2 separate regions of the Homo sapiens genome follow, and region 1 is reported to be linked to region 2. The links are microRNA targets in miRTarBase. Many come from high-throughput screens and were not tested one by one. Region 2 holds a microRNA gene; the other region holds the end of a gene's coding sequence.

Region 1 (4,407 bases), not on the chromosome of region 2:
CAAATTAATGCAGGAACAGAAAACCAAATGCCACAAGTTCTCACTTATAAGTGGGAACTAAACATTAGGTACACATGGACACAATGAAGGGAACAATAGACACTAGGGCCTACTTGAGGGTGAAGGGTGGGAGGAGGGTGAGGATCGAAAATCTACCTATTGTGTATTATGCTTATTACATGAATGATGAAATAATCTGTACACCAAATGCCCACAACATGCAATTTACCCATGTAACAAACCTTTATTATTTTGTCTTCCACTTGTTTTCTACCTCCTTCTATTTTAATTGAATATTTTGTATGATTTGATTTTTTTCCTATTTTAGTATATCAATTCTACCTCTTTTTTACCCTTGAATTTACAGGATACATTTACAATGAATCCAATCCTTTCTCAAATAACCCTATACCACTTGCTTCTTTGGTAGTACAAGTATTTTGTAACAGGGTATTCCCAATTCCTCCCTCCGATTCCTTACAACATTGCTGCTATTCATTTCACTTATCAATAAGCTATAATTTCTGAATACACTGTTATTGTTTTGAACAAACTATTATCTGTTAGGTAATTAAGAAAAATAAAAGATTTTATTTTACCTTCATTTATTCCTTTTCTATTGCTTTCCCTTTGTTTACGTAGGCCAGAATTTCTGACCTGTATAATTTTCATCCTTTCTAAAGAATTTCTTTTAACATTAAAAAAAAGAGCAGCTCTAGAGATGACAAATTCCCACAATTTTTGTTTGTCTGAAAAAGTCCATTTCTCTTTCACTTTTGGAGGACAATTTCACTGGATACAGAACTGTAGTCAGCGGTTGTTATGGTCTGATGTTGCATCCCCCAAATTTCATATGTTGCAATCCTAACCCCTAGTGTGATCGTATTAGAAGACAGGACCTTTGGGTGGTAATTAGGTCATGAGGGTGAAGCCCTCATGAATGAGATTAGTGATCATAAGAAGAGACGTGGGATGATCTCTCCCTACCATGCGAGGATACAACAAGAAGGCCACCTGCAAACCAAGATGACTGCCCTCACTGGACACTGGATCTGTTGACATCTTGATCTTGGACTTCCCAGCCTCAGAACTGAGATAAATTTCTATTGTTTCATTAAGCAGCCTAGTTTATGGTATTTTGTTACAGCAGCCTGAGCTGAGACAGTGGTTCTTTAAACCCTTTAAATGTTTCACTCCACTCTCTTCTTTCTTGCATGGTTTCTGAAGAGATGTCTGATGTAATTCTTATCCCTGCTTATCTATACATAAGGTGTTTTTTTCAAGATTTTTTCTTGGTCTTTGATTTTTTTGGTATTTATCATTCCTGGTATTCTGTGAGCTTTCTGGATCTGTGGTTTGGTGTCGTTCATTTTGAGAAATTCTCCGTCATTACTGCTTCAATATTTCTTGTGTTCCTTTTTTTCCTTTACTTCCAGTAGTCCCATTACACGTTACATACCTTTTAAAATTGTCCTGCAGTTTTTGGATATTCTGAATTTTTCATTCTTTTTTGCTCTGCATTTAAGTTTTGCTAGTTTCTATTGACATTGTTTTAAGCATACTGACTCTTTCCTCAGTTGTGTCTTACCTGTTGGGTAGTCCATCATCATTCATTCTGTTACAGTGTTTTTGATTTCTAGCATTTTTTTTTTGTTTCTTAGTTCCCATCTCTCTGCTTATATTACCCATCTGTTCTTGCATTGTCCAATTTTCCCATTAGAACTGTCAGCATATTCATCGTAGTTGTTTTAAATTTCTATGGAAATATATGGAAGGTTTGCCAGAGAAGGCAGCAGTTGAGTTGAATCTTAAAGAAGTAGGGGCTGCCAGGTGGAGGAGATGCTGGGCTGAGAGAATAAATAGCTTTTATGAGAGAGTGGCATGCTCAGAAAACTGAAAGTATTGTAGCATAGTGAGGAAGTGGACTGCCAATCCTCTTACTTTGGGTAAAGCATCTTATATTTGTATCAAATACAAGGAGTGCAATTATGGACCAAGGTAAAATTGTTTAGGTAATATCTGTGCATCCCTAAATCTTCCAGGAAACTGGTTTATCACCTTTTTTGGTCATCCACAAAGACAATACATTCCAGAGTTTACAATTTCAAACTCTTAGGCAGTCGAAGATTCAAATGACATTTCACTGAATTAAAAATATTTTCCCAGAGTTTAGGCTTTTGTCCTGATCTTTGTGGAGAAGGGCCAATGGAATTTTGAGAACTCTTACTCCATCCTGAAGTCAGCTACAATAAATGCTATGATCCGGAACATTAACCTCTGGCTTTCCCAAGCCCGAGCACCTACCTGGCAGAGGGCATCCCAAAAGCAAGTAGACTTCTGCTCTTGCCCAAGATAATCACTAAGGATGAGAATTTTATACCAAAAGTTGGGGTACTCTTTGAGAACCAGGATACTTGCCTTCAAAGCACCATCTAATGTATTTAGAAGATAGCTATTTCCCACCAGACATTAAAGATTCCTGAGGAAATCTATGGTCATGGTCCTTTAAAACATAATAGTTACTCTTTTAACAGTGCAGTGGGCTCTCCTTGGAAACTCTTTAGCTACTAGAAATACTGTTGAGAGTAGACCACTCAACCCCAGATCTTCATAGTTCCACCCAGCTGTAATTAGGCTGTGGCCTGTATTTTTAATGTACCTCTCCTACCTGACCCTTCTTATGCTTAGCCTCATCCTCTAATGGATGCCATTGTTGACCTATGACTCAAGGCTGCTTGATTCTGTTTTCTGACTTACTACATGCATCTTGACTCTTCTGCCTGACATACTTGCTCCTCTGTGTGTCCTTCACAAATCCCTCCCAGTGCTCACTGCCTTATGAATGACAAACTGAGGTGCTGGACTTATTCCAGTGTTCACATGAATAAATGGCTGGAGATGTAAACCAATTCGCTGTAAAGGAAACTGTACATCTTTACACCTTTGCTACATTTTGAGAAATAAAATGATTATTTTAAACCACAGTCTATGCATTTCAGTGCCATGTTGTGCCACACTTTTGCTTTGTGCAACTGGCAACTTTTAATATACAGTATTTTTTCTAATCATTGGAAGTGCACAACTTAACACTTTATCTTATTCTGTAATCATTTTATTCAGGTATGTTTTATCTGTACAATTATGTGGTAATCTCCTAGTAGAGAGAAATGGTTCCTAGCACACTAATGATATAACAGAAAATCAGGAAATGATGTTTGTTGACTAATTGATTAAAGTGTCTAGTAGGGAGGTTAAAATCAGTGACATATTATATGTCATTCCTACTTTGAGTTCTTAAGTTTTTTTGGTGTCGAATGTGTAAGTAGTTTTGGAAGAAATCAAAACTTCAGAGATTTTTTTCCATGCTGATAAAAACTAAATATAAATATCTGCTTTAATATTTTTCCATATTTTCTCTGGATTTCTTTTTAAATCTCTGAAAGATGTTCCCACTACAGAAGATGGGATATCTAAAATTTTTAGTTTATGCATATGCATGTGTAAGGGGAGAGATAGGGAAAGGGGAAGGGGAGGGCTTTCCTTTTTTTCTTTTTACTACATAAGCATATGTTATCCTTCATTCACAGTTCTCAGAGCAGTATAAAGCTAGATTAACTCTCCCTTTGGAACTTCAGATATAAGGTGGGTTGTCCATCATTCTTATTGGCCTGCTCATCCTTATTTTTAGTTAGATGGAGGGCTGTATGCTTAGAGCTTTGCTGGTTAGTTTCTTCAGCTTGAAGACTCTTATATTTTAGAACATTTGCATCCATTCCAAAGCTTGAAGAAGCAGTCTCCCACTTGCTGCTGAGAGGTTTTATGTCTTCATTCTTTATGGCCCAGATTTGAGAATGTTTATTCTTCTTGGGGCCTTTGAGAGGTGATAAACTTTCCAATGACCTGTGGGGCTTAGACTGGACCCATTCTGAAGAGTTTGCCATAACATCCCCTTGGATTACAAAAGGGTGATTTCTGGGTGCTGTCCAAGATGTGCTGTATTTCTTTATATTTCTGCAAGTAGCCGGATTTAGTCTAGAAAAGAAATGAAATACGTGAATTTTTGTCCATCATGGACCTACTTTGTAGTCCTAGGTATGTTGTCATAGTATAAATAATATTTTTCCTTTTAGTAAGTTCATAACTTCTTAAAGTTTAAGAATTTTACCATCATTTAGAAGTCTTCATCTCTGATCATGATTTTTTTTTTAGCACTATTCCAATCCTGTATTTCTAAATGCCTAGAGGATATGTTTATTTGGATACCTACTCTAACCTCAGCCTTCCTAATATAATAGCCACTCTGGGCCCCAGCTCCTTACCTATATATCTAGTTAAAGTAGATGGTCACTAAAAAGTAAAGTAGTTGTTTGCTCTAAAAATCTATTCTGTTTATTCTATTAGAATGGA
Region 2 (4,407 bases):
GGCCCTGAGGGCAGAGGCCTGAGCCAAAGCCTTCAAGCCTGAAGGAATTTGTCCTACTGGATTTCAAAATTGCTTGGGATTAGTGATTCTTTTCTTTCCTCCTTTTTCCTCCCCGGTTAAATGGGAATGTCGATAACGGTTACCCATGCTTGTCCCACCATTGTATTTTGGAAGAAGATAACTTGTTTTCTAGTTTCACAGGTTCACAGATAGAAATTTTGCCTCATCCTGGTCCATATCCAGAGTCTCATTTATACCTGATTTAGATAATTTATATGATGATGAGATTTTGGACTTTTGAATTGAAAATATATAAATGAGAGTTGAGACTTGATTTCATGCTGCTATGGGTTGAGACTTTGAGGATGTTGGGATTGGGTTAATGTATTTTGCAGATGGGATGGATGTGAATCCTTGGGAACCAGAGGATGGCCTGTAATAGGCTGAACAATTTAACAATGCCCCTCCTCAAAGATATCACATCCAAATTCCTGGAACCTGTAAATGTTATCTTACTTACAAGAGAAAAGGGTATTTGCAAATATAATTAAGTTAAAAATCTTAAGATGGAGAGATTTTTCTGCATTATGTGGGTGAGCCCCAAACGCTATAATGAATGCATCGTTAAAAGAGAGAGGCAGAGGGAGATTTAACACAAAGAGAAGAGAGAAGGTGATGTGATGACCTCAACAGAAAGAGAGAAATTTGAAGATGCTATGCTCTATCTTTGATGATGGCCAGAGGAGCCATGAGTGAAGGCGTACAAGAGGGGTCTTGCCACTGAAAAAAATAAGAAATGCCAGCATCCACCAGAAGCCAGAAGCGGCAAGGAATGGATTCTCTCCTGGAGCCTCTGAAAATGAACATGGTACTGTCACACTTCGTTTTCAGCCTACTGATAGTGATTCCCGACTGCTGACTTCTAGAACTGTGAATCAATTGCTATTATTTTAAGCCATTAACTTTGTGGTAATTTATTACAGCAGCCACAAGAAACTAATACCTTTGGTTTTTCAGCGTTTCCTATTTTACTACTGTGAGGGGGCTTATAGATTGCAAATGATGGAGCAAACAGCAGTGTTTCTCAGATCACTAGAAGTCTGCAGCAATAGGCTTAGTATTCACATTATAAGATTGTTATAAAATTGTTCTAATTTTGTATTTGCCTTCCCTTTGGTTTCTAACATCATCATTTTACATTATCTTAACTTTTTTTAAATTTCAGAGAGATCCAAACATTGGTTAAAACTTAGCTAACACTAAGGGTGCATATAGTTGAAACTGTTGGAGCTGTTTACTACAGCACTTTCTATGCCCTTCTAGTTCTGACTTCTAACCCTGATCTAGAGCCACGATGATGTATTTCCCTCACCTTCTTTGGTCACAGAAGGAGGACATTTCACCCAGATCTGCGGCCTAATCACAGGCCACATTTCTGAATAGGCCACGGATCTGGGCAAAATGTCCTCTTTTCTCAGGAGCTCCCCAAACAATAAATCAGTAAATCATATGAATTTTTGCATGAAGTTTTATGAATAGTGGCTTTCTTCTGGGAATACCTCCCTTTTTTAACTTCCTCTGATTTTTTTCTGGACTATGTATCAATTTTTTTCTTTAATGTTTCTTCTCTCTTTATGCTGATTATCATCTCTTTAAACTTACCCAACTCACAGAAAGCTACAAATTTTTGCACTTCCCCATCCCACATGCCTATAGCAGAGTCAACAAACCATGTGAGCAGCAGAAAACTCATGTCCTATTTAAAGAACACGCTGCTTTCTGAAATGAACATGGCAACTAATCTGCCAATTAATTATTTGTCAATAATGAAACTGCAGCCACATTGGCTTTTGACGTGATTGTAATATTCCAATATTATACTAAAATTTCATGTTCTGGGAGCCCTGACAACTTTCAGTTAGATGAGCTCTAATTAGAAGTTTCTAGTGCTCAGTACTTTCCACTATGAACTAGCAACTACACATAGAGATCTACAATCTGATCTTTCATCATGAAACTTGAGATATAAGTACCTTGATGCTTCAACAGAGCTAAACCAAGGCTCCACCTCTTCCTAATCATGCTCCAACCAGTATTTTTTTTTAACTTAATGCCTTTTATTCATTCAACAGCTTGCTTTGCAGAGCTCACAGCTGTAACAGATGTGTCCTATGGTAAGCTCTTCCACAGTAACTGTAGCCTGTTGGTCATGAGCTTCCATTTGTTGAACTCTACATTGTGACTGACAAACTTGGCTGCACCTTAAAATTACCTGAAGAGCTTTTAAAACTTGCTGTCAATTAAATCAAATTCTCTGAGAGTGGGACCTAATGCTCAGTGTGTTTTTTAAAGCTCCCAGTTTATTTCAGTGTGTGGCTAAAGAACCACAACACAATATCCTAAACTTCTCATTACTGATCATTCTTTCTTCAATGTTCTTTTTCTTTATTCATCATCACTTAACATTTCCTCTAAGGCTTTATTAGCATAGTTCTATAATTCCTTAGAGTTAAAGAAAATTCAGATATTTTTACATCATTGAAAGCTAAAACTTTGTTACTTACATAAGTGCTTAAAAGGCATGCAATGCCCATAAATTCTGTGTTAGATTCAAAATAGTTAACCTTATTTTATACATTATAGAAATTCTAAGGTTAATTTTTTAAAAATTAGGTCTTAAAATGCTTACATTTACAAATCTGATCAATAGTTGCAACCTCTTGTTACTGTTTGCTTTTATAAATTGACCATTAGATGCTTGTGCTCATGAGTTGACACATTGAAATTATGCAAGGTTGAATTTTGAAAAATCTCTGTCACCATATTTAATGGTTCAAGGGAATGAAAGGATTCTAGTTACATAGGCCTAAAGGACATAATGAAATTTAAAATTTGTTTCCCTTAGAAAAGATTAAGATATATTTTCTTAAAAGATATTAAGAAAGGTATTCTTCCATATCCTAAGTTCCCTTAGTAAGTTTCCATGATTAGCATCAATTGTTGAAGTGAAGTTAATTTATGTGTGTCTTACCGAATTTACTGTGGATAAAGGATGACTCAAATAAGTATACACTTGGCCATCTGTTTTTGCAAGTTCTGCATCCACAGATTCAACCCACCATTGATTTAAAAAATCCAAAAATAAAAATAAAAAATCAAAATCAAAATCAAAAAACAATACACTACAACTATTCATTAAGCATTTACATTGCATTAGGTATTATAAGTAACCTAGAGATGATTTAAAGTATCTGTATATAGGTTATACGAAAATACTATATCATTTTATGTAAGAGACTTGAGCATTCGTAGATTTTGGTAACCACGGAGGTCCTGGAACCTTCCATAGATACCAAGGGATGACTGTAATTACTTGGAACCAGCCCTGACCATGATCAGTATACTCATTTACCAATTCGCTTCCATTTGATACTATACATTCACAGGACCATGCAGAGGAGGGCAGGGCTAGCATTTACAAATCAGTCTTTTCCAACTCTTCCAAAGAGATGATGTGTTTCCCAGACTTCCCATTTCCCGATGACTTCCCCAACTTTATGCACAACAGCAAGATCCAGGAATATATCATTGCATTTGCCAAAGAAAAGAACCTCCTGAAGTACATACAATTTAAGGTAAGATGTTATCAACAATTTAGCTCTTGTCATAATGCTGAAGAAGTCTATGTCTACTACTGGATTCTCATTTGTTCCTTTCAGTTTCCCTTTCTAATTTGTCAACATTTTTAACAGTGTGGCCTCTCTAACTCTAGGTTTAGAGAATTACCTTCTTCTCAAGGATACATAGAAAATTCACAAAATTTGACCACCTACAGTTCTTAGACTAAATCACTACTAATTTAGAAATCAATACCAAAGAAATAAATATAAAATACCTGTGAATTTGGAAATTAAAAACTCTTTTTATCTAAATAACATATAGGTCAAAGAAGAAATTTCAATGGGAATTTAAAAATATCTATAACTGAATGTTAATTTAGTCTATGTATCAATACTTGTGGGAAACATAGGAAGCTATATTTTCATGAAAATTATAAATGTAAATGTTTATATTAGAAAATGAAAAAGTTTAAAAATAAGGTAAGAAAGTTTAAAAAAATTAGTAAAAGAAAGACAGAATAAACTCAAAGAACATAGAATGAAGGGGATATAAAATAAATTTATAAAATGTAAAAAAGCATATGTACAAATTGAAAGTTAATTATTTGAAAGGACTAATAAAATAAACAACAGGAGCCAAGTGCAATGGCCCATCTTATAGTCCCAACACTTTGGGAGGACAAGGCAGGCAGATTGCTTGAGTCCAGGAGTTGGAAACTAGCCTGGGTGACATGGAGAAACCATGTCTCTACAAAAAATACAAAAATTAGCTGGATGTGGTGGCACA

Evidence for each region. Region 2 holds the annotated microRNA hsa-miR-1295b-3p (AAUAGGCCACGGAUCUGGGCAA, at 1,439-1,460, shown strand). A microRNA usually pairs through its seed, bases 2 to 8, with sites in the 3' UTR of a target mRNA and lowers its output. Matches are read on the target gene's strand: a 7mer-m8 pairs with bases 2 to 8, a 7mer-A1 pairs with bases 2 to 7 and ends in A, and an 8mer does both.
Region 1: the mRNA of AGBL3 is a reported target of hsa-miR-1295b-3p. The part of its 3' UTR that is shown has no 7-base or 8-base seed match.

Annotation. Positions count from the first base shown.
Region 1 is chr7:135,134,466-135,138,872 of GRCh38, reverse strand. AGBL3 (AGBL carboxypeptidase 3) reads right to left here. Exons shown (of 17, transcript NM_178563.4): 17 at 3,095-4,032. The coding sequence ends at 3,612. It also overlaps a transcript of CYREN not described here. Among named protein-coding and RNA genes, the nearest start is that of TMEM140, 11 kb to the left of the region's middle.
Region 2 is chr1:171,100,339-171,104,745 of GRCh38, forward strand. MIR1295B (microRNA 1295b) reads left to right here and starts at 1,401; the gene lies at 1,401-1,460. It overlaps FMO3 (flavin containing dimethylaniline monoxygenase 3), which reads left to right. Exons shown (of 9, transcript NM_001002294.3): 3 at 3,447-3,635. It overlaps MIR1295A (microRNA 1295a), which reads right to left and starts at 1,468; the gene lies at 1,390-1,468.